3 separate regions of the Homo sapiens genome follow, and all the other regions are linked to region 3. Evidence: fine-mapped expression QTL. A gene starts in region 3. Each other region holds a variant in brackets. All regions are shown on one strand. Distances are from middle to middle.

Region 1 (5,000 bases), 55 kb before region 3:
AATATCATAGTTTATTCAAGTGTTTTCCTATTTATGAAAGATTCTAGTTCTTTTCAGTTTTTCTTCATTACAAATAACACTGTGAAAAACACACTGATGCATAAAATCCATTTGGGAGGTGGAGGTTGCAGTGAGCCGAGATCACGCCACTGCACTCCAGCCTGGGCGACAGAATGAGACCATGTCTTAAAAAAACAAAAACATTTTACTCTTTTATATATAGACAGAGAGAGAGAGAGAGTACATATATGTGACATATATATGTACTATATATAACATATATGTACTATATATAGTATATATGTACTATATATAACATGTACTATATAACATATATGTACTATATAACATGTATGTACTATATATAACATATGTATGTACTATATATAACATATATGTACTATATATACATATATATGTACTATATATAACATATATATGTACTATATAACATATGTACTATATATAACATATATGACTATATATAACATATACTCTATATAACATATATGTACTCTATATAACATATATATGTACTATATATAACATATGTACTATATATAACATATATATGTACTTTATATATATAAAAGAATAGTTGAGAATGACAATAAAAGGAAAATAAGAGCAGTAAAGTAATAAAGCATAGTAATGCACAATAGGGTCCTCTAAAGTTTCTGGAGACGGGCTCACATTTGATTGGAAGCTTCCAGCTGTCAAATCGCAGAGGGAAACAGCAGCTCCCAGATTGACAGTTACCATAATACACAAATAAGCCACATGTTCAGAAACTGCTGAGCTGTTCTGAGATACATGTGATTAACTCATGAGCAAAACTTCATCTTTCTGCCAGCAGCCCCTCTGACTTAACCCCAGCTGCCCACAGGGTATCACCTCAAACCATCTTTCCCTCTTGACTGGAAAAAAAAAAAAAAGCCAAGTAGAGTTCACTAAACTCACTGCCTGAGTGCTCTCTTTCTCCTGGGCAGGACATGTGGTCTTATAAGTTTTGATCTTTGGTGTGTTTCAAAAAGGACAGAGCTGTCTGGTTGTGAGTATAATTTGTGTTTAGTCTGTTATTTTGAAGGATGGCAGCACCCAATCCTTCTGGGATCTGTGGATCCCAGGTAATGATGTTTAAGGGTCCCCAGGAATGTATTTCTTTATATCTGGGGAAAACTCTTAAAAATGAAAATGCATTTCTGCTAATAATTCTGCATTTCTGAAACATTTCATTCAGGTTACCTTCAAATTAGTGGGTGCTGGGGCCCTGACAGTGAAATGTTTTGAAATAAATGTCCTCCATCCTGCCCTTTCTGTTGGCTCGGGATCAGTCTGAGGCAATGGCCCTGGTGGGGCCCAAGCTTGGGTAGCCAGGGGACGGAGAGGGAGTCTGCTGTGGAAACCTAGCCTAGGGGAGCCCACAGCCTTAGGAAGTTAGGGTGAGGCAGGAAATAAAGGTCCTTCTCTGAAGCCTAAGCTGCTTCTCCTTTCCAAGTACAGGAGTTCATGCTCTACCTGAACTTCTATTTCAGCCTAGCTTGGAAGGGCCCAGCCAGCATCATAGCACACACTCCCAGGACAGTCTTGGAGCTGTATTTTCTCTTAGTGGAGGCCAAGCCATTAGGCCTAGGCCTGGTCCCTGGTATTCTTACCCCTGCCCCTCCTGCGGTGGAGGATGCTTGAGGTTAAGAGGCAGTGTTTTTTGCTTGGGAGTTGAGGAGGACTCACCTCCTTCCATTGGTCCTTTTCTCCCATCACAAAAATATGCATGTTGTGCCAAATGCGCCCACAAACACTCCCTTTTTTGAAACAGGATCTCACTCTGTCACACAGGCTGGAGTGCAGTGGCACGATCACGGCTCACTGAAGCCTCAACTTCCCTGGGCTCAGGTGATCTTCCTGCCTCAGCCTCCCAAGTAGCTGGGACCACAGGCGTGCACCACCACACCTGGCTAATTTTAGTATTTTTTGTAGAGATGGGTTTTCACCACATTGCCCAGGCTGGTCCCAAACTCCTGGGCCCAAGTAATGCTCCCATCTCTGCCTCCCAAAGTGTTGGGATTATAGATGTGAGCCACCGTGCCCTGCTCACCACCCATTCTTTGAGTGAAAAACGCAGCAGTCTGTCCTGTCAGCTCCCTGGTTTGGAGTTTACCCACAGCACCTGCCCTGACCTGACCTCCAGGTATACAGGTCTCCTGCTACAACCGTCCCTCGGCCCCTCATTGCCTCCCAGACAAAACAAGCCCTGTAGTATCCGGCCCAGCAGTCAGGTGTTCACCAACCTTGCCAGCCTTTGTCCTGTCACTTCTCTCTGAGGACTTCAGGCTTTGGTCCCGGGGGACTTGGCCACACTGGCACTCTCACCTACACTGGAGTCATTGCTCAGTCACACCTCTTAGGAATATGTCCTCTCTCCCTTTTCCTCCAAGGCTCAAGTGTAACACCACCTCCTTGCCCACTACCCTCTGCCTCACAGATCTCCTGCACTGACCCACTCCTTTCTTCTAATAGGACTGTGACACCTGCGTCTTATAGCCTAGGCC[A/G]TGTGTACCTGTGGCTGGCTGGCTGTCTCTCCCATTTAGACCACAAGCCATTCCAGAGTAGGCACACCTCTGAATACCCACAGCACAAGTGGCACATGACAAGTGCTTGTTGACTAAATCTGGTACTACTCATTGTGAGGTGTAACTTCAGGCCATGGTGGCCTTCGGGGCGGTGAGATGGACTATTTCTGTTACTTTGCTGGGAACAACTGCTCAGCTTCTCTCTCTCATTTTATGGGCAAGGATCTTTTCCTATTTCACCGCTCTCATAGCCCTTGGATAAACTCGTTTGTGACTCATCCCCCCAAAAGGGTGCAAAGAGCTGTCTTGTGGAGTAATTTGGAGGAACCTTCTGTTTGTGCATGAGAAGGCTAGGTTTCTCTCGTCATCTTGGAGGCCTGTTCCCATCCCATAGAGCTGCTCCTAGCCCAGATACAGAGGGAAGTCATTCGTGTCCTGATGAGCATGGGGCACCCATCCAGGAGCCGTCTAATGTTACAGGCCTGAGCCCCAGCACCAGCATTCAGGCCGCCAGATCTCAACTCGACACCTTGTGCCTTTCAACAGCCTGGCTGATGCCACAACCCCAGGCCAGAAAACCTTTTTCTCAAGGTTGAAAGTAGCTGACCTTTGACAAGCAGCATTGGCTAAATTCCTTGTTCCTTAAAAGGAAAGCTCCCAGTTATCATTAGCCAGTGTTTATTTGGCCGCAGGGCAGGAGCAGGCCCTATACTGCACCCTGTGTACCCAGCAGGAGGGTTTGTGGCTGGAAGTACATGGGCGAACAGTCATTATTAAAATAGCCATTTTTGAAAACGTGTGCTGGAGAGGGACGCATCCAGCCTGTCAGCTGGTCTGCACCCCATCTCATGTGGCTAGACAGCTCGTTGGTTCTCTGGCTCCCTCACAGGCAACAGTGCCATCCACTCCACACCAGCACACTCCTTAACGTGTGCAGCAAGAAAACTGACAGAATGACAAGGACACACACCAATTATTAAATGTCTGGGCTTGTGTTTTTAATGTAGGGGTGACAGTCCAAAGATTGACTTGGCCGGCAGTTCGCTATCTGGCATCCTGGACAAAGATCTCTCGGACCGCAGCAATGACATTGGTGAGTAAGGACAGTGTTCTCGCTTCTCTTTGCAGAGTTAGTAAAGAACCTCAGAGCCTGGCTTGCCTTCAACCAGCATGATGAGAAGTAATAAAGCCATTGAAATGCCAGGCTGGCACCCTTGCTTGGCTTTAGGTGTTACAGTTTTGTAAAGAAGGGAAATGATGGTGCTTTCCACATTAAAACACAATGCCTGGGACCTTTCCCCTCCCTAGGAGAAATTCCTTACAAGATCTAATGAAAAGAAATGATGAATAAGCCTTTTTGTAAAAAGTGGGCATTAGCCCTTATGTTCACAGTTTCCAGTGATTTGTGTATTTTGTGTAAAAAGGTGGATGGATGCAAATGTGAGATGGCAGGGTTCATTGTTGATACAGCACTTTTGACTGAGTTTCAAATGAGCTTTGGTATGGTAATTGCCACTTAGTTCAGAACATGAGTGAGTTTTCCCAAGGTCAGGATACCACCATGTGATAAATGGGAGGGAGCTACAGTCTCTCTGGGTAAATAAAAGTCAGAGGTCCTTTTGGAGGTGTACGTGAGTGGGTGTGAGGCCACCGGTGTGCTGTTAAGGCCACTAGTGGTCTGACCTGGGTGACAACCCTTTTAAGAAGTCCAGATTCAGGGACTAATTTTTTCTTATTATTTTATTTTATTTTTTGACATAAAGGCCATTTAATGATAGAAATATATAAAAATAATCATATTGTTTAGCAACAGGCTATCACATTTCTTGGGAAGAGGAAAATGACCTGCTTTAAGAAAAACTTGCAACCATGTGCAAGTCTTCATTTCAACATATTTTTCCCCATCCACTTAAGCATTTATCCTTTGAGTTATAAACAGTCCAATTACACTATTTTAAAATATACAATTAAATTATTATTGACTATAGAGATGCTATTGTGCTATCAAATAGTAGGTCTTATTCATTCTTTCTAACTATATTTTTTGTACCTATTAACCATCCCCACCGCCTCCCCACCCCAGCCCTGTACTACCCTTCCCAGCCTCTGGTAATCATCCTTCTGCTCTCTACCGCCATGAGTTCAATTGCTTTGATTTTTAGATCCCACAAATAAGTGAGAACATGCAATGTTTCTCTTTCTGCACCTGGTTTATTTCACTTAACATAATGATCTTCAGTTCCATCCATGTTGTTGCAAATGATAGGATCTCGTTTTTATGGCCAAATAGTATAAATTTTTTTTAGCTTTACATCTTCTGTTTGTACCTATCAAGGTCATAAGTTAGCATTCTCTCGTATTCTACATAATATAGAAGGCTGAATTTTAAAATTTACTTTGTTTTAATTGAACTTTTTATTTTGAAGTCAT
Region 2 (10,720 bases), 120 kb after region 3:
ATCATCGAGAAGAATCAAATGCATCTGTATGTGACAGCTTTTGATGGGAAGATGGGGGAACAAAATAGTAATGCTAATTGTAAATCAAGTTTTTGTACTAGGTGTTTACTACTAGATCCGTATGCCTGAAAGAGTGGGGAAGCCCCAGCATATTTACTTTTTGTATTAAGATAATGTTAATTATATTGACCTTCAATTCCTTTCTGGGTTATTGAAAGATATTTGTTTCCTGACAACTTGATAAGGGATTATGCAGGAAGACACCTAGTTGGGTTATTCAACATGCTTAGAAGCAGTTTTAAATTGCAGCGTTAAAATGGGGAAGAATTTCCAAAAGGTGAGCCAATTATATGCAAACCATATTTTTAATTTTCTTGGATTCCATTTCATAAAGTCATACTATGAACAGGTGAACAATGGAGAATTCTGCCCCTTTAAAGTCATTTAATGAAAAGGGCCTAAGCTAAGCACTGTGACTTGCCTGACAGTCAAATAATGTTATTTATATTTTTTTTAGTTGCTAGACAACTCTGGGGGCCTTAGAGGGCTTCTCCGCTACAAGTTGTATGCTTTTTTGTCCTTTTGTTTTTCCTTCTTCAGTATGAGTATGACCATGATGCAAATGGTGAGAGAGTTGTCTTGGGGAAAGGCACGTATGGGATTGTGTATGCTGGCCGAGATCTGAGCAATCAAGTGCGAATAGCCATCAAAGAAATCCCGGAGAGAGATAGCAGGCAAGTCCAGGCGGGCCTTCCGCATTTCGGGTGCCGTCTCCACACCCCAGATCCCATACCCACCGCTCATGGTGTGGAGGAGTTAAGGGCAAAAGCATTGTGTTACCACAAAACCTGTCATTCTCTTGTAATAGGGGTGATCTTTTTTTTTTTTTTTTTTTTGAAACGGAGTCTCGCTCTATTGCCCAGGCTGGAGTGCAGTGGCATGATCTTGGCTCACTGCAACCTCTGCCTCCCAGGTTCAAGCAATTCTCATGGCTCAACCTGTAGCTGGGATTACACCATGCCCAGCTGATTTTTTTGTATTTTTAGTAGAGACGGGGTTTCACCATGTTGGTCAGGTTGGTCTCGAACTCCTGACCTCAAGTGATCTGCCCGCCTTGGCCTCCCAAAGTGCTGGGATTACAGGCATGAGCCACCGCGCCCGGCCAGGGTGATGTGCTTTTGTTTTGTGTATTATAGATTGAGAAAATGGAAGAACTACACTTCAGAGGCACGTGGATTGCAGAGGATCATATTTTAAAAGAAAACTTTTGTTGTGTTTCCACCCATTGGCTAGGTCTAAAGTTTTACATTTTTTGCGTAGTTGTTTGCAAATATATATACATTTTTGAGATGAAGTCTCACTCTGTCACTCAGGCAGGAGTGCAGTGGCAGATCTCGGCTCACTGCAGTCTCCACCTCCTGGGCTCAAGTGATCTTCCCACTTCAGCCGCCTGAGGAGCTGGGACTACAGACACACGTCACCATGCCTGTCTAATTTTTGAGTGCAAATATAATTTTTAAATATTACTGGGTTATTTTAAATTTACATTGTAGCAGTTGAAAATGGCTATGATTTGTTCAGATGCATCATTGTGGAAAATTACATGCAGATAAAAAAAATCAGATTTTTGCAGTACAGAATTTTTTTTAACATCCTACCCTTCACCCTCACACATGGATTTTGGACTGTTTTTCTACCATGAGTACTGCTTATTCATTTCTTTGACTTTTTTTAATTTTAAGAAATGTTTGTTTCTAGCCGGGCATTGTAGCTCAAGCCTGTAATCCCAGCACTTTGGGAGGCTGAGGCGGGCAGCTCACTTGAGGTCAAGAGTTCAAGACCAGCCTGGGGAACATGGTGAAACCTCGTCTCTGTTAAAAATACAAAACTTAGGTGGGTGGGCATGGTGGCGCACACCTGTAGTCCCAGCTACTCTGGAGGCTGAGGCACGAGAATCGCTTGAACCCCGGAGGCAGAGGCTACAGTGAGCCGAGACTGTGCCACTGCACTCCAGCCTGGGTGACAGAGTGAGACCCTGTCTCAAAAAAAAAAAAAAAAGTTTAAATTTATACCCCAACAAAATGAGCATTGCAATGTTGACTGCAAAGTGTTTCTGTAGAGAAGCTACATACACAGTTGGAATTAATCATTCCGGGATCCACAGGTGTGTCAGACCACAGCTGTAGGATTGCCTTCAGTGTCGAGTGCTGAAGAATAATGTGTAAACACCCATGTATCTGGGTGATTGCTGATATATTGGGGATGAGTTTTAAGGGATTTCTGCCAGCTGTAAGACCCTTCATTCATCCATTCATGTATTTGTTGATTTTCAGTGGGATAGCATGTTATGATACGTGAATTATGAGACAGGACCTGAAATGAACTATTTCCATTTCTTCATTTCACCAATAAGAAAATCAAGACTGAGGAAGATTAAATGACTTTCCCAAGGATGCTTAGAAACAAGACTAGGATCCGAGTCTCTTGAGTTCCTCATCCAGCATCCAGTCTCTTTTCTCATGATGGATAAGGTGTTGCAGTTGTATCTATTTGGGGAAATTTCTGGCATGTCCCATCTCCTTCATTTGGTAGCAATAGCTGTTCTAGCTTTTTGTTGCTGATCAGTAGTTCCTGGGATTTTAAGAGCTAGAAGGGACCTTTAGAGACTGTTTTGTTCAACTCCCTAAATTTATAGGCTGAACTTATGATGATAGGTACTTTCTCTGTGTCAGACTCTGGGCTGGCACTGGGGACCGAAAGGTGATTAGGATAGTGTCCTTTTCCCAGGGTTCTGCTGGTTCGGTGGCAAATGCAGATGCTTTGCCTCTGAGTGAAAGTGCCAAGTGCCATGATAGAGGAGTACACAGAGTGTTTTTAGAACGCAGAAGAGGAATGAATTACTCTCCTTAGTGAGTTGTGGCAAGTTTGAAAAAATAGATCAACTTTGAGCTGCACTTTGAGGGATGAGTAAGAATTTGTTTAGCGGAAAAGGAGGCCTATGCTGATGGAAAAACAGAGCTGTTAAAACACAAAGTATATTCAGAGAACAACAGATTGTCTGATATGACTTGAATGTAGGATGCAGGGCAGTGAGATGCTCTTGAAATGAGGCCAAAAAAAAATTTTTTAAGGCTTAGCCTGAACTGATCTTTGAAAGTCCTTGTATGTGACATTAAATAGCATGGTCTCTATGTGGAATTTATGTGGGGAAGGGATGTGGTGAAGTGTGTGTTTTAAGAAGAGGTAGTATAATGGCCAAGGTTGGGGAATGGATTAAAAAGGCCAGAGGCTGGGGCTGGGTGGCCCATTAGGTGGCTGCTGTTGTGGTCTGGGGCGACTCTGTAGAATAAGACGAGAGGGCAGCTGAGGGCAGAACCTTCCAGAACACCACTCTTCATGGGAGGCAGAGGAAGAGGGGCTGTTGAGAGAGGTAAAGAATGGTTGGTGGGTTCAGGCCCGAAAAATAACAGTAGTAACAATAGCAGTCATTCATTGAATACTCACCACACACCAGCTACTCCACTAAGTGCTTAATGAAATGGACATGCCTTGGCCCCTGGCAGCCCTGCATGGCTGTAGGCTTATCCTCTATTGTACAGATGGGAAGTTGAATAGTTTCATGGAAGCCAGAGAAAAGAAAGTTTCCAGAAAGAAGGGATGGGCAGCAGTGGGGCAGGTCCTGGTGAGGTGAGATGTGGTTCTAGAGTCCCTGGGATTTGGCAGGTGACCCTGGCTCTGTTTTTCCCAATAGGTATTCTCAGCCTCTGCACGAGGAGATAGCCCTGCACAAGTACCTTAAGCACCGCAATATCGTTCAGTACCTGGGCTCTGTTTCAGAGAACGGCTACATTAAGATATTTATGGAGCAGGTGCCTGGAGGTGAGTAGTCGCTGTCTTCTGGTCTCACATTCTGAAAATCACTACGACGTGGATGTCATTTGTTGTCCTGCCATTTACAAAATGACAGACCCCTAAGCCAGGCCTGTAGGGCGCCTGTAGTCCCAGTTACTTGGGAGGCCGAGATGGGAAGATCACTTGAGCCCATGAGGTCAAGGCTGCAGTGAGCCATGATCACAGCACTGCACTCCAGCCTGGGCGACAGAGCAAAACCCATCACTCTTTTTAAAAAAAAAAAAAAAAAAAAAAAAAAAAAAAAAAAAAAAAAAAAAAGCAACAGACCCTTTAGATGTTGGAAAGTTGGATACTTTCCAAATGTCATATAAGCAGTCTATTTCTGGTTTGTTGATGCAGTTTGTTCAACCCACAAATATTCATTGACTGTCTATGGAGAAAACATAGTCTTTGGCCTTGAGGCCTTCACAGTCTAGGAGTTTAAAGGTGGGTTTGGACAAGGGTGCAGAAGAGGGAACATAGATGTTAAAAGTGACAGTGCAAAATAGCATTTTGATAATGAAATCAAGCATCAGTGTTTTATCCACAAAAATCCCTGAATGCAAGAGATAGGGCACAGGAGGGGAGTTCCTGGGATCTGGACCCAGACCATCTAGTCTGAGTCCGTTCCTCCATCCACAAGCTGTGTGACTTCAGGCAAATTGTTATACCTCTCTGTGCCCTCAGTTTTCTGATTGAATAAATGAACTGTAAAATTGGAGTAATAATGACTCTGATAATTGGAGTAATAATTATTGGAGTAACAATTAACGCTGTCTCAGTGGGCTGTTGGGTGGATTCTGTCTGGCAGAGAACAAGAGCTCAGTAAGTGCTCATTGAAATAATGAATCAAACTCTTTAATTAAATAATAGTTATCTGAATACAGATGTTAAAACTTCAGTTAGAAATCTTCATTCATTCATTCAACTGACAGTTATTAAGAGTCT[G/A]CTATTACAGGAAGAGTCTTAAGTATATTTATTAAGAGCCAGGCAGTCAGCCAGGCACAGTGGTCACGCCTGTAATCCCAGCACTTTGGGAGGCCAAGGCAGGTGGATCACTTGAGGCCAGGAATTCGAGACCAGCCTGGCCAACATGGAGAAACCCCCTCTCTACTAAAAATACAAAAAATTAGCCAGGTGTGGTGGCGTGCGCCTGTAGTCCCAGCTACTCCGGAGGCTGAGGCACAAGAATCGCTTAAAACCAGGAGGAGGAGGTTGCAGTGAGCCAAGATCATACCACTCCACTCCATTCTAGGTTACACAGTGAGACTCCGTCTTCAAAAAAAAAAAAAAAAAAAAAAAAAAAAAGAGCCAGGCAGTGGGCTAGATTTTCAGGGTTATGTTAGAATAAATAAAGTAGTTTGTCTTTCCCTTAAGTTGGTCATAGTCTATCAGAAAACTCGTCCATTGCTGCTTTTTCTTTTTTTTTTTGAGATGGAGTCTCTCTGTCTGTTGCCCAGGCTGGAGTGCAGTGGTACGATATTGGCTCACTGATGGCAACCTCTGCCTCCTGGGTTCAAGCAATTCTCTCTGCCTCAGCCTCTCAAGTAGCTAGGATTACAAGTGCGTGCCACCACGCCTGGCTAATTTTTGTATTTTTAGTAGAGATGGGGTTTTGCCACGTTGACCAGGCTGGTCTTGAACTCCTGACCTCAGGTGATCTGCCCGCCTCGGCCTCCCAAAGTGCTGGGATTACAGGCGTGAGCCACCGTGCCCGGCCCCTTACTCTTCACGTTAGTTGATAACCCCATCCCCGGCGTTAGGTTTAAGGGTATCAACAGAAATAGAGACAGATGTGTTCATCCCCTTTTATAGATGGGGAAACCAAGGTAGATCAAGGTCCCATAACACTGTGTAAGTGGGAATCTGAGACCAGCCGATGTCTGAGGGCCCGTTCCTGCCAATGGACAGGACATCCCGCAGTTCACATGATGTCCTTCGAGACGTGGTCACAGTGTCCTTAAGGGAGCTTTTCTTTTGGCCCAAATGTTCAGTGTTTAATAGCGTAATTGGGGGAAGTGGTTGTTGATCAAGACAGTCCTGCCCTGAGACTTGCCACTGTGGCTTTCTCACATTGAGGACAGAGAGACCCAACTTCCTCCAGTCCTAGTCCTTGTCACCCTAAAGGGCCCCTCACTGTGGACCTGTCCACCTCTGATTACAGACAAGGTATAAAACGTGGCTTTAACCCAAGCAGAATGACTGAGACAGACCTGCTGTAAACAAGTGTCATGGGACCTGAGTTATCTACGCCAGCAGGCCATGCCCCTCAAGTTGAGAGAGCATTATTTCGCTCTCCTCCTAACTTCATGTAGCTGAACAGAGCTAAACCCACAATTGGCCCCACTGAATTTCAGGGGGCACAAGGGGTTCATGTTCACCCTGTGCCTCTGGTTAGGTTCATGTGCTCAATTGCTTCCAGTCCATTCCCTGGCTGTAGCTACAGAGGGGAGGAAACATGTTGCATTTAGCCCAGATCCGATGGTGTTGGTGTAAGCACTTAGGTTAGGTTAGAAACCTCACCTCACTTTATTTCCCTGAACTTTTATTGAAACTTTCTCTTCCTGATAAGTTTTTTGCTGTGACTGTCTCTAGGAAGCCTTTCTGCTCTTCTGCGATCCAAATGGGGGCCGATGAAGGAACCGACAATCAAGTTTTACACCAAACAGATCCTGGAGGGCCTTAAGTATCTTCATGAAAACCAGATCGTGCACAGAGACATAAAGGTACTTGCTTTTTTAAGCTGACGAGGTTGCCTTTGCTCGTATCAGATCATGAGAGCTGTCGATGGTGTCTGCTGAGTGACTGGCTGACAGAGGGGTATGATTTAGCACAACCGTCCCCAAAATGCAAAGTCTAGTTTTCCTAGAGACTTGTGACGGTTTCCCAAGGTCCAGATCTGTTTCATATGAGTTCGTTTCAGCCTGTCTTTTAAGCACTTGATGATGTTATTTTCCGAAGGGCGATAATGTTCTGGTGAACACCTACAGCGGAGTGGTGAAAATCTCCGATTTTGGAACCTCGAAACGTCTTGCGGGTGTGAACCCCTGCACAGAGACTTTTACTGGTAAGTGGACCAAAGCTTGGCACAGGGTGCCCATCCCAGAGTTACGCTTTCTGCACAAGCTGCGGTTGTTCAGCCGTTACTTAGTGAGCACCTTTTCTGAGCAGAGTGAGCAATTGATACTTGAAGTAGACAGTGGATTGTCCCCAACTTCAAATTGTTTTAACTTTGTCATAGTGATGCACCTAGCCAGCTACTTGTGGCAACAAGATTGCCCTACTTTCTTCTTTGTCATCCAAAAGTTGGGTAGATGGAGTGCTCTGCTGAGGTTCTGAGGTTTTCTTTTCTTTTTTTTCTTTTTTTCTTTCTTTTTTTTTTTTTTTTTTTTTTGAGACGGGGTCTCACTCTGTCGCCTAGGCTGGAGTGCAGTGGCACGATCTCGGCTCACTGCTACCTCCACCTCCTGGGTTCAAATGATTCTCGTCTCTCAGCCTCCCAAGTAGCTTGGATTATAGGCGCGCCCCCTACCACACCTAATTTTCTATTTTCAGTAGAGACGAGGTTTCACCATGTTGACCAGGCTGGTCTCGAACTCCTGACCTCAAGTGATTCGCCCACCTCAGCCTCCCAAAGTGCTGGGATAGATTACAGATGTGAGCCACCGCGCCTGGCCTCTGCTGAGGCTTTCTGAAGGTCACTCAACCAATCAGCAAGATGGCAGCACATCTCTTTAAAGTTAATAGCACATTATCTGAAATCGTGGGTAATGCTGAATAACAGTATTCCTCAGACAACTGATTAAGACATTTTATTGGTCTGTCATAAAAATAGCCTGTTACTGTAGTGAATTCTGGTACCTTGTGTTTTGATATGATTGTGTTTCCAAGAGAGGCTAATTCTTCCTGGGGAATATGGTATTCTAAGTGATTTTGAGGAATTGGATTTTCTTGTCCATGTGTCAGTAATGGAATAACTTGAGCATTGAGAGGGACTGGGTTCAAAGGGTGGTATACAATTACCAGCTAGTTTCACAGTTGTAAGATCAATAAGTAGAATGATGGTCAAAAGCTACTTGTGGCTATTGGAAATTCCTGCTTAAACCTGACTAATAACAAGAACTTTGATCCTTGGAAAGAAGTACTGATTTTTGAATAAGTAAAGGTTTATAGTCCCCCAAGGAGTAACGTAAAGATCACAAAGATCTTGCTTGATGGAATTATGAAACAGCTGGGGCCTGGTATAGTGGCTGACACCTGTAATCCCAGCACTTTAAAAGGCCAAGATGGGAGGATCACTTGAGGCCAGCAGTGCAAGACCAGCGTGGTCAACATAGTGAGACCCCATTTCTTAAAAGAAAAAAAAAAAAACAGCTTTCATAGGCTGGGCACTTTGGGAGATTGAGGCAGGAGGATCTCACTTGAGCTCAGGAGTTCAAGACCAGCCTGCGCAACATAGGGAGAACCCCATCTCTACAAAAAATAAATAATTATTATTATTACATATTATATTTATATATTATATGTTATATATAATATAATACATAATGATTATATATAATATATGTATATAACATATATTATATAGTAATTATTAGCTGGGTGTGGTGGTGTGCGCCTATGGTCCCAGCTACTAGTGAGGCTGAGGTGGGAGGATCGCTTGAGCCCAGGAGGTTGAGGCTGCAGTGAGCTGTGATTGTGCCACTGCACTCCAGCCTGGGTGGCAGAGTGAGACTCTGTCTCAAAAAAAAAAAAAAAAAAAAAAGAAAAAATTAGCTCTTAAAATAATATAGCTCTGAAATAAGCTATAAAAGACAGGTGACTGTTCTCTATCTCTGCAGTCACCAAAGCTGTAGGGTGGACAGCTTGGGTCTTATTTTTGGTAAATAATGTGTCAGCTTTGAAAGACTTTTTGTCAATGAGAGAGTTGTCGCGTGTCAGCCACTGGACACCCACAGTGGAGACACATTCACCATCTAAAGAGAATTTTAATACATCACAAAATGACTTCTCACTTGTAACACAAGGGGAGGTACATGTGCCTGAAAATGGGAAAATACTATACCAGGGACACTATCAGAATCTCCCAAAGAAAGAGTGCATTGAATTTTCATTCATTGTTTCTGGTATAAATATACGTATACATCTGTCAATGTGTGTATATGAATATGTGTGTATGACTAGCACTTCATTTTCTTTTAGCATTTTACTACCCTAATTGAAAATGACTTGTATCCTCCTCTTTGGAAGCCACCAATTAGCTTGGCAATACATAGCAAGAGGGGCTCTGATATGACAAGGAGTTATTTGAAGACATAAAACCCCCAACAATTTATCTCATAATTAGCTTCCCTGAGGAGGAAACAAACTCACAAAGAAACACATGTATAATTCATCCTTGCATATCACACTTCCCAAGTAATTGGCTTGGGGAGGCACGGATTTTGCATTGCAAAAGAATGCAGGGGTGTTTGGGGGATAATAAGGAAGGGGTCTCATTTTGGTTAGGAAATTCCCCCGCATATAATTGCTCTTTGCAAAACAGAGCAGTTCTGTAAGGAAATCTCAGCTGGTTGGTGCAGAACTCTGGGTCTGTGGTTGCTCAGCCTGGCAGGAGAGCCAGAGGGTTTCAGTCAACTTCCTGGCCTGGAGCCCTCCCTCCCTGTGTTCCTCTGAAGGGTTTGCCCCACACATAGGAACCTGCGAGAACAGGAGGAAGGGCTGTTATAGCCAGGGTCAGCCCTGCCTTTTTTTTTTTTTTTTTTTTAGCAGCCTTATCGAGGTATAGCTGACATATCATCAAAGCACCCATTAGAAGTACTCAATTCTTTGGTTTTCAGTAAATTTACTGAGTTGCTCAGCCATCACCACGATCCAGTGTCTGGACCTAGCAGACCCCGTGCCCCTTGGTACTCATCCCCATTCCCACTCCAGCCCCAGCTCATCACTCATCTGCTTTGTTGTGTTTGTGTGGCTTTGCCCGTTGTGGATATTCATATGCTTGGAATGAATACAATATGTGGGGTTTTGCATGTAGCTTCTTGCACGTTGAGTCCTGTTTTTGCAGTTCCTCCATGCAGTGGTGTGTATGGGTACTTCGTTGTTGTTCATGGCTGAATGGCATTCCATTGTGTGGAGAACCACATTTTGTTCATCCGTTTACCAGTTAACAGTCATTTGGGATTGTTTCTACTTTTTGGCCACTGCGAATAATGATGCTGTGAACATTCACATACAAAGCGTGTGTGAACATGTGTTTTCAGCCTTCTTGGGTAGATACCTAGAGGGAGAACTCGGGACAGGAAGTCTGTTCTCGTCTGGCTGCAAACATCGTTGGTTCAAATCCTGGCCCAACCACTTGCTAGCTGTGTGACCTTGGGCATATTACTTAACCTCCATGTGCCTCAGTTTCTTCGTAAGTAAAATAGAAATGCTCGTTGTACCTACTCATAGGGTTTTTATGAGGGTAAAGTGAGTTACTGATGAAGTGCTTTGACTGGTCCCTGGCACATAGCAAGTGCAATTGAAGTGTTTGCTAATTAAATACTCGCTTGTACTTAGAAGTCATGGGTTATTAGAGCTGGAAGGAGCCTTTGAGAGAACTGAGTTTGTGTGTGTAACTAACGTGTTGAACCCATTGGACTCAAAGGGTGTAATCACAAAAGCCACTGGATTTTTCTCTCCCACTTTTCATCCTGCCTGGGGCGGGAGTTCTTTCCTTTGACTTTTCCAGCCACCCTTACATAACAGAGAAAGTCATAATGACACTTGAAGGAGCGCACACAGTCTGAATTCAGGAATTAAAAAGGACTCATCGCTTGAAGCCGGG
Region 3 (10,720 bases):
GATCAAGGGTACACTAGATGTCTCTGTTTTATTTCTTATAATTGCATGTGAATCTACAATTATCTCAAAAGAAAACATTTTAATTAAAAAAGTTTTTTACATACACAAAACAACAATAGAGACAAATATGGAATCCTCTAGGAGAGGGTCATCAGGGTGGAGAGTAGTCTGGAAATGATGCCATGGAGAAATGATCGAAGGGCCTGGGAGGTGGGGTATCACCTGCAAAAGAGAAGACTTAAGGAGAATTCTTGGACAGTTGCCATGTGGAAGAATAATTAAATTGGAACCAGTGGGTGTGGCCAGGCACAGTACCTCACAACTGTAATCCCGGCACTATGGGAGGCGGAGGTGGGAGGATTGCTTGAGCCCGAGAGTTTGAGACCAGCCTGGCCAACATGGCAAGAACCCATCTCTACAGAAACAATTAGCCAGGTATGGTGGCATACACCTGTGACCCCAGGTACTTGGGAGGCTGAGGCGGGAGGATTGCTTGAGCCCAGACCAGAAGGTCAAGGCTGCAGTAAGCCATGATCACACCACTGCACTCCAGCCTGGGCAACAGAGCAAGGCCCTGTCTGAAAAAAAAAAAAAAAATAGTGGGTAGCACTCACAAAGGGATTTCCTCTAAATATATGGAAGAGGTCAGGCATGGTGGCTCATGTCTGTAATCCCAACACTTTGAGAGGCCAAGGCAGGAGGATTGCTTGAGCCCAGGATTTGGAGACCAGTCTGTGCAACATAGTGAGACATCATCTCTACAAAAAAAATAAAAAAATGTGGTAGGAGGATTGTTTGAGCACAGGAGGTTGAGGCTGCAATGAGCTGTGATCGCGCCACTGCACTCCTGCCTGGGTGACAAAGCAAGACCCTGCCTCAAAAAAAAAAAAAAAAAAAAAAAATTAAATATATGGAAGAACTTTCCATGATACCTCTACATTAGGACAAAGTTGTTTCCAGGGCATGTACTTAATAAGGGGCAAGGCAAAGGTAAGAACAAGACAGTTGTTCAATTAAACAGAAGAAACGAATCCAGCATTTTGCAATTTTCTTCTCAGTGGGGCTGGGGGGAGGTAGGAAGGACATTGGGGGAAGGGGCCAGGGCATGCTTCAGGTGTGCAAATTGCTACACACAATGAGAAGGTGGGCTGTGTGTCCCAACTTCAGGGAAGGTGCTCGTTAGCTGGGTAAATGCTGCGCTCTCAGCATTTACTCAGCAGGGTTTGTATTTAGAGGAAGCTCTTATTCAAGCCAGAATTCACAGCTCCCGTGGGTCTCACTCCATCAGCAGGGCCCCAGTGAGAGCTGAGAGGAATTCGGGAAGATTGTGATGGGGACAACAGCAAGATGCTGGCAAGGGATTTTAAGTGGGCATCTTTGCCCTTCTGAAGGCTGTGGCAGTCCCTGGAATAATTCCAGATGAACAGGCATATTAGGAAAATTACTATTATTATGCATTACAACGTTACAAAGAATACATGTGTCCTTTTATAGCATCATACAAAAAATGTCTTAGAACAAGGTGTGGAGAGTTTTTCTGAGCTTTCCTGCTTCCCAGCCTGGTCTGTGTGTTCTCACAGATTTCCTCAGAACCCATTTTCCATTCGTTGACCACAGACGAGGATGCACATGGAAGCTGCTTGTGATTTCCGCCAGGGCTGGAACGAGGGCAGGATTTCTTCATGGATTTATACAGATAGTTTCTGCTTTCTTTGGGGGTGGGAGGTGGACTGTATTAGTACTGAAGCATGCAAAGAAGCTGAAATGTTTTATAAGTCCTATCCTGCACGTGTCAAAATGGCTTGTGATGTGCTGCCAAGGACACCCTCAAGAAAGTAAAAAGACAGCTCACAGAATGGAAGAAGATATTTGCAAATCACATATCTGATAAGGAACTTCTATCCACAATATGTAGAGGATTCTTACAACTCAATAATAAAAAGACAAATACTCAATTAAAAAATGGGCAAAGGATTTGAATAGACATCACTCAGAAGTTGTTATACAAATGGCCAATAATTAACACATGACAAGATGCCCAGTGTCATTATCCATCAGGGAAATAGAAATCAAAACCATCATGAAGTACAATTTCACACCTGCTAGGATGGTCATAATCCAAAAACAATAACAAGTGTTGGTGAAGATGCAGGGAAATTGGAACACTGCTGGTTGGTGAGAATGGAAAACGGTGCAGCCACTTTGGAAAACCGTGGAAATTTCTCCAAAGGTTAAACACAGAGGTAAGCCTGGTGTGGTGGCTCACACTTGTAATCCCAGTGCTTTGGGAGGCCGAGGTAGGAGCCAGGAGTTCGAGACCAGCTTGAACAAGATAGTGAGACCCCATCTCTATAAAAACGTTTTCTAAAAAAAACTGTAGAGTTAGCATGTGACCCAGAAATCCTGCTCCGGTATATGCTCAAAAACCTATGTCCACACATTGCATGATTCCATTTGTATGAAATGTCCAGAATAGGCAAATCTACAGAGATGGTAGACTTATGGTTACCTAGAGCTGGGGATGTTGGGAAGGAGGGAGAGTGGTTTCTAATGGGTACTGATTGATTTTTGCACTGGGGCGTGGGGTGATGAAAATGTTGTATAACTCATTATGGCCATAGCTGCACAACGCTGTGGATATACTAAAAACTTTCATTGAATCGTACCCTCTAAATGGGTGAATTGTATGGTATGTGAATGATAGCTCAATAAAGCTGTTATTAAAAAAGAGAAAACCTTTGGGTATAAGCCCAGTAACGGGATTGCTGGGTGGAATGTTATTTCCATTATAAGGTCTTTGAGGAATTGCCACACTGTCTTCCACAATGGTTGAACTAATTTCCACTCCCACTAACAGTGTATAAATGTTTCTTTTCCTCCACAGCCTCGCCACCATCTGTTATTTTTTGACTTTTTAATAATAGCCATTCTGACTGGTGTGAGATGGTATCTAGTTGTGGTTTTGATTTGCATTTCTCTAATGATCAGTGATGTTGAGGCTTTTCTTTCATATGATTGTTGGCCACATGTATGTCTTCTTTTGAAGAGTGTCTGTTCATGTCCTTTGCCCACTTTTTAATGGGGCTGTTTGTTGTTTTCTTGTAAATTTAAGTTATTTATAGATGCTGGATATTAGACCTTTGTCAGATGCATAGTTTGCAAAAATTTTCTCCCATTCTGTAGGTTGTTTGTTCACTCTGTTGACACATACATGTGTATGTTCATTGCAGCACTATTCACAATAGCCAAGACATGAAATCAATCTAAATGCTCATCAATGGTAGATTGAATAAAGAAAATGTGGTACATACACACCATGGAATACTATGCAGCCATAAAAAAGAATGAGATCATGTCCTTTGCAGGAACATGGATGGAGCTGGAGGCCATTATTCTTAGCAAACAAATGCAGAAACAGAAAACCAAATGCCCCATGTTCTTACTCATAAGTGGGAGCTAAATGATGAGAACACATGGACACATGGAGGGGAACAACACACACTGTGGCCTATCAGAGGGTGAAGGGTGGGAGGAAGGAGAGGATCAGGAAAAATAACTAATGGGTACTAGCCTTAATGCCTGGGTGATGAAATAATCTATACAACACACCCCAATGACACAAGTTTACCTGTGTAACAAACCTGCACATATACCCCTGAACTTAAATGAAAAACAACAGATTGTATTCCATAAATATATACAATTATTTGTCAATTAAAAATAAAGTTTAAAAATAATATTGCAATTGAAAAAAGAAAAACCTCCAAGTCTGTGACAGCGTCCGGTGCATTCTATCTTTTAGAAAACAATGACCCAGGTGCGGTGGCTCACGCCTGTAATCCTAGCACTTGGAGAGGCTGAGGCGGGCGGGTCGCTTGAACTCGGGAATTCGACAGCAGCCTGGCCAACATAGTGAAACCCCGTCTCTACTAAAAATACAAAAAAAAAAAAAAAAAAAAAAAAATTAGCCGGACATGGTGAGGTGCGTGCCTGTAATCCCAGCTACTCTGAAGGCTGAGGTGGGAGGATCGCTTGAGCCCCGAGAAGCAGAGGTTGTAGTGAGCCTAGAGCAGAGATCGCGCCACTGCACTCCAGCCTGGGCGATAGCGACAGACTTTGTCTCAAAAAAGATAAAAAATAAGAATAATGGTATTACCCTCAGTGGTAACACTATTTTCTTTTAATATTTGTGTCCAAATTCGTGAAGTGCCTAAGATCCGAGTGAGGGCCCCTTTGAGTTCACGGCATTTTCAAAGGTCAGGCAGGCAGCGTACTTGGAGTCTATCTTCCAGACAAAATTTGTTGCTGGTGCCTCCCTGTGCCTTGTCAAGGTCACGGCGAAAGCCAGGACGAGCTCGCCTCCGGCACAGGGCTCACGGGGGGCCGTGCGCTTGGCAACCAGGGATGAAGCATCCGTTCATCCCAATGCCGGGTGAAAACTATTAATACGTCTGTATTGAGTTGGGAATAGAACATTTCCATCCAACCGATGCTTTGAAAGAGTTTTTACCCTGCTCGAATGCTTCAAGTTGTTTTGAGAAAAAAGAAATTGGAGCTCCTAATGGTGGTCAGGCTAGAGGGATGGCCAAAACAAAAAACAAAAAACAAAACAAAAAAAAAAACAACCCCAATTCCTGTTCCCGTGTTCGGCGTCTCCCGGCTGCGGGCGGGCGCTGCCTGGAGGGGGCAGCAGGGGGCACCCTCCCCGCTCCTGCCCCGCCGCCCTCCCCGGCCCCCTCCCCGCCCCTCGCTCGCCCTGACGTCCCCAGCCCCCGCCTCTTTCTCTCCGGCCTTCAAAGGGCGCTGGGGGCCTTGGGGCCTGAGCGTCAGGCTGCAGCCTAGGGGTACTGCCGTCTTCGGCCCGCCGCGGGGTCCCCGGTGCGCTCCGTTCCCTCGATTCCCGTAGCGTCCCGCGCTTCAGGAGCAGGTGCCGGGACCGCCTGCGCGGCTGCTGTAACTTGTGCCTCCTAGCGGATCGCAGCCGCTGGCCACTCGCCCAGGGGAAGGGCGCGCAGGCGGGCACATGGAGAGCGGCGGTGGGAATGCTCCGGCCGGGGCCCTCGGGGCGGCGAGCGAGTCCCCTCAGTGCCCGCCGCCGCCGGGGGTGGAGGGCGCGGCCGGGCCGGCGGAGCCCGACGGGGCGGCGGAGGGCGCGGCAGGCGGCAGCGGCGAGGGCGAGAGTGGGGGCGGGCCGCGGCGGGCTCTGCGGGCAGTATACGTGCGCAGTGAGAGCTCCCAGGGCGGCGCGGCCGGCGGCCCGGAGGCTGGGGCGCGGCAGTGCCTGCTGCGGGCCTGCGAGGCCGAGGGCGCTCACCTCACCTCCGTGCCCTTCGGGGAGCTGGACTTCGGGGAGACGGCCGTGCTCGACGCCTTCTACGACGCAGGTGAGAGCGGCTTCGTCCCCACCTCAGTCCCAGTTCACCTACCCTCACACGAGCCAGGGCACCCGCCCCGCCCCCTCGCCCTTCTCCCCCGTCCCCCTCCCCCTCGTCCCCCTCCCCTCCCCCTCGTCCCCCTCCCCTCCCCCTCGTCCCCCTCCCCTCCCCCTAGTCCCCCTCCCCTCCCCCAGTCCCCCTCGTCTCTAGTCCCCCTCCCCTTATCCCCCTCCCCTTATCCCCCTCCCCCAGTCCCCCCTCCCGCAGGCCCCCCTCCCCTTAGTCCCCTCTCCCCTTAGTCTCCCTCCCCTTAGTCCACCTCCCCTTCCCCTAGTCCCCTTCCTCTCATCCCCCTCCCCTTAGCCCCCCTCCTATCCTCTCACCCCCTGATCCGTCCAACAGGACCGTCCTGCCTTTGGGGGAGGGTAGAGTCTTTAACATTGTGCCCTTTTACAGATAAGAAAATAGAGGCCACGGGCATTTAGACTCTTTGATTCTTCAGGCATCTTAAACATCAGATAACCCAAGAAACAGCCTGTAACCCAGACCCTACCAAGCCCCCCTTCTCCCAAGTTATCCAACTTTTGCTTTCTCATTCCTGGAAGGTCTCTTACGGCCGTGGGTCCCAACGCAGGCTACATATTAGAATCACCTGGGGAGCTTTTAAAACTCTGGGTGCCCAGATCGGACCCCAGACCAATGACATAAGCACCCGAGGCCTTAGAAGTGTCATGCTTCCCAGGCGATTCCATTTTGCAGCCAGGAGTGGAAATCGGTGTCTTACGTGTGTGTGTGTTGCCTCTACTTAGAAATACCCAGTGTTCTTTTGCACACTTCAATTCTCGTCCCCAAAACACTGACGGTGGAGTGTGAGCCACCACCCTGTGACGTATATTTTATCCCATAATGCACAGCATTCACGGGTTAGGGGGCACCTTTGCTGGAGTGGGACTCTAGGTCTCTAAACTCACTATAATAAATGTGCCTGAGAATCCAGCCTTAAGAAGCGTACTTTGGATTGGCAAGAGTTTCTCTCGGTGTGGAATGAATTGTTGCTTGACGTTTTTTCCCTTACAGCACCTTTGGTGACAAACCTCTGTCACCTGGGTGACGTTCAGAAGCATTATATGTGAGACAGTAATTACCTGGGAGTCCTTGTGCCTCAGTTTCTGGTCAAAGGGAGTTAACAGTGCCTACCCTAAACCTAAAAGCTGATGAGATAGGATATGGGAAGTTGCTTTGCTGTAATAGTAAGCTAGGATGATTAGGATTCAGCCTCTGCTGGAGGCAGCGCAGATCTGTTTTTCTTGCAGAGCAAATTCTCCCCAGCTGGAAGGGCGGGGTAGGGGGGGAGTCAGGCTTGTTTAAACAAGTGGCAGCTGGACCCATTGAAAGCACTCTCCTGACATTTCTGACCACACTGAGTATACTCTTCAGCACAACATCTTTTTAGAAAAGTCGTTCAGGAGTCCACTTCACCTAGAACCACTCCGTTTTCTCAACTTGTATTCATTCTGCTCCAAAATTGGAGTTTGAACAGACTCTTCTCTGAACGGTTAAATGTTCCTTTTGCCATGAGGCACAACACTCTCCTTCCTGCTGGTGCCACCTCTGAAAGATTTGTGTGCGGTGGCTTTTGCTTTCCCTGGGGCGGAGTGTGTGTGTACGGGGGGCCCTTCTAACAGGTCGACTGTGAAGATGCAGACGTCAAATCTCAGGCTTTCAATTCTGGAGCCACACAACAGACACGTCACCTTGGCTCACTCTGGCCTGGGTGGCCTAGAATGTTGGGCTGTACCACGAGCTCCCTTTGGTTAACCTTGTCCTGGTCTTGAGTAAATCATTTCTCAGTGCATTAGAATTGCTTTCAGAGGTTTGAGAAAGTACATACACAGTAAGTGGGTTCCTGGGCTAAACAGATGAGCACCTCCACTGTCTCCTGGATTCGTCCTCCATCACTCACTGCTTTTTGATGTTTCCACCAAAAAAGATACAGAGCTCTCACTTTGGCTTCTTTGTAAAAATTCTAAAACCACTCTGTCCAATTTGGTAGCCACTAGCCACAGGTGGCTCTTGACAGTTAAACTGATTAGAATACGGTAAAAATGGTAAGATCCTTAGTTGCACTAGTGGCATTTAAGGCGCTTGATAGGCCAGGTGCAGTGGCTCACGCCTGTAATCCCAGCCCTTTGGAAGGCCAAGGCGGGAGGATTGCTTGAGTACAGGAGTTCAAGACCAACCTGAGCAAAAAAAAAAAAAAAAAAAAAGCAGGATGTGGTGGCACCCATGTGCCTGTGGTCCCAGCTACCTGGGAGGTGGAGGCAGGAGGATCACTTAAGCCCGGGAGGTCGATGCTGCGGTGACCTGTGTTTATGCCACTGCACTCCAGCCTGGGTGACAGATCGAGACCCTGTCTCTAAATAAACGAATAAATGCATGCTCCGTAGGCACAAGTAACTCCCAGGTGGGACAGTGAAGTTACAGAACTCTTTCCTCATCTCAGAAGGTCCTATTGAACAATGCTGTTCTGGAAAAAGGCTTGTGGGGGAGGGGAACTGTTGAACGGCCCAAGTATTTATTTTTAACTTTAAGTTCTGGGATACATGTGCTGAACGTGCAGGTTTGTTACATAGGTATACATGTGCCATGGTGGTTTGCTGCACCAATCAACCTGTCATCTAGGTTTTAAGCATGCATTAGGTATTTGTCCTAATGCTCTCCCTCCCCTCCCACTCCCCACAGGCCCTGGGGTGTGTGTGTGATGTTCCCCTCCCTGTGTCCATGGGTTCTCATTGTTCAACTCCCACTTATGAGTGAGAACATGTAGTGTTTGGTTTTCTGTTCCTGTGTTAGTTTGCTGAGGATGATGGTTTCCAGCTTCATCCATGTCCCTGCAAAGGACATGAACTCATCCTTTTTCATGGCTGCATAGTATTCCATTGTGTATATGTGCAACATTTTCTTTATCCAGTCTATCATTGATGGGCATTTGGGTTGGTTCCAAGTCTTTGCTATTGTAAATAGTGCTGCAGTAAACATACATTTGCCTGTGTCTTTAGAGTAGAATGATTTATAATCCTTTGGGTATATACCCAGCAATGGGATTGCTGGGTCAAATGGTATTTCTGGTTCTAGATCCTTGAGGAATTGCCACACTGTCTTTCACAATGGTTGAACTAATTCACACTCCCACCAACAGTGTAAAAGCATTCCTATTTCTCCACATCCTCTCCAGCATCTGTTGTTTCCTGACTTTTTAATGATCGCCATTCTAACTGGCGTGAGATGGTATCTCATTGTGATTTTGATTTGCATTTCTCTAATGACTAGTATTGATGGGTTTTTTTTTCATATGTTTGTTTGCCACATAAATGTCTTCTTTTGAAAAGTGTCTGTTCATATCCTTTGCTCACTTTTTGATGGGGTTGTTTTTTTCTTGTACATTTGTTTAAGTTCCTTGTAGATTCTGGATATTAGACCTTTGTCAGATTGATAGATTCCAAAAACGTTCTCCCATTCTGTAGGTTGCCTGTTCACTCTGATGATAGTTTCTTCTGCTGTGCAGAAGCTCTTTAGTTTAATTAGATTTCCTTTGTCTATTTTGGCTTTTGTTGCCGTTGCTTTTGGTGTTTAAGCCATGAAGTCCTTGCCCATGCCTATGTCCTGAATGGTATTGCCTAGGTTTTCTTCTAGGGTTTTTATGGTTTTAGGTCTTACGTTTAAGTCTTTAATCCATCTTGAGTTAATTTTTGTATAAGGTGTAAGAAAGGGGTCCAGTTTCAGTTTTCTGCATATGGCTAGCCAGTTTTCCCAGCACCATTTATTAAATAGGGAATCCTTTCCCCATTGCTTGTTTTTGTCAGGTTTGTCAAAGATCAGATGGTTGTAGATGTGTGGCGTTATTTCTGAGGCCTCTGTTCTGTTCCACTGGTCTATATTCCTTGGTATTTTATTCTCTTAGTGGCAATTGTGAATGGGAGTTCACTCATGATTTGGCTCTGTGTTTGTCTTTTATTGGTGCATAGGAATGCTTGTGATTTTTGCACATTGATTTTGTATCCTGAGACTTTGCTGAAGTTGTTTATCAGCTTAAGGAGTTTTTGGGCTGAGACCGTGGGGTTTTCTAAATATACAATCATGTTGTCTACAAACAGACGATTTGACTTCCTCTCTTCCTAATTGAATACCCTTTATTTCCTTCTCCTGCCTGATTGCCCTGGCCAGAACTTCCAACACTATGTTGAATAGGAGTGGTGAGAGAGGGCATCCCTGGCTTGTGCCAGTTTTCAAAGGGAATGCTTCCAGCTTTTGCCCATTCAGTATGATATTGGCTATGGGTTTATTTTAAATAGCTCTTATTATTTTGAGATATGTTCCATCAATACCTAGTTTGTTGAGAGTTTTTAGCATGAAGCGGTGTTGAATTTTATCGAAGGCCTTTTCTGCATCTATTGAGATAATTGTGGTTTTTGTCATTGGTTCTGTTTATGTGATCGATTATGTTTGTTGATTTGCGTATGTTGAACCAGCCTTGCATTCAGGGATGAAGCCGACTTGATCATGGTGGATAAGCTTTTTGATGTGCTGCTGGATTCGGTTTGCCAGTATTTTATTGAGGATTTTCACATCGATGTTCATCCTGAAATTTTCTTTTTTTGTTGTGTCTCTGCCAGGTTTTGGAATCAGGATAATGCTGGCCTCCTTTTCTGTTGTTTGGAATAGTTTCAGAAGGAATGGTACCAGCTCCTCTTTGTACCTCTGGTAGAATTCGGCTGTGAGTCCGTCTAGGATTTTTTTAGTTGGTAGGCTATTACTGCCTCAATTTCAGAACTTGTTATTGGTCTTTTCAGGGATTTGACTTCTTCCTGGTTTTGTCTTGGGAGGGTGTATGTGTCCAGAAATTTATCCATTTCTTCTAGATTTTCTAGTTTATTTGTGTAGATGTGTTTATAGTGTTCTCTGATGGTAGTTTGTATTTCCATGGGATCAGTGGTGATTGCCCCTTTATCATTTTCTATTGTGTCTATTTGATTCTTCTCTCTTTTCTTCTTTATTAGTCTAGGTAGTGGTCTATCAATTTTGTTGATCTTTTCAAAAAACCAGCCCCTGAATTCATTGATTTTTTTGAAGGTTTTTTCATGTCTCTATTTCCTTCAGTTCTGCTCCAATCTTAGTTATTTCTTGTCTTCTGCTAGCTTTTGAATGTGTTTGCTCTTGCTTCTCTAGTCCTTTTAATTGTGATGTTAGGGTGTCGATTTTAGATCTTTCCTGCTTTCTCTTGTGGGCATTTAGTGCTATACATTTCCCTCTAAACACTACTTTAGCTGTGTCCCAGAGATTCTGGT

Evidence for each region. PIP is the estimated chance that this variant, and not a neighbour inherited with it, causes the effect.
Region 1: its variant is fine-mapped to the expression of MAP3K15 in whole blood (TOPMed, PIP 0.98).
Region 2: its variant is fine-mapped to the expression of MAP3K15 in whole blood (TOPMed, PIP above 0.99).

What each region holds. Positions count from the first base shown.
Region 1 is chrX:19,567,766-19,572,765 of GRCh38, reverse strand. It overlaps SH3KBP1 (SH3 domain containing kinase binding protein 1), which reads left to right. Exons shown (of 18, transcript NM_031892.3): 13 at 3,578-3,663. Among named protein-coding and RNA genes, the nearest start is that of MAP3K15, 55 kb to the right of the region's middle. The variant A/G (reference allele first, on the strand shown) is at 2,550.
Region 2 is chrX:19,388,240-19,398,959 of GRCh38, reverse strand. MAP3K15 (mitogen-activated protein kinase kinase kinase 15) reads left to right here. Exons shown (of 29, transcript NM_001001671.4): 15 at 601-734; 16 at 3,752-3,879; 17 at 6,487-6,617; 18 at 6,853-6,958. Among named protein-coding and RNA genes, the nearest start is that of PDHA1, 50 kb to the right of the region's middle. The variant G/A (reference allele first, on the strand shown) is at 4,840.
Region 3 is chrX:19,509,565-19,520,284 of GRCh38, reverse strand. It overlaps MAP3K15 (mitogen-activated protein kinase kinase kinase 15), which reads left to right and starts at 4,777. Exons shown (of 29, transcript NM_001001671.4): 1 at 4,777-5,384. The coding sequence starts at 5,024.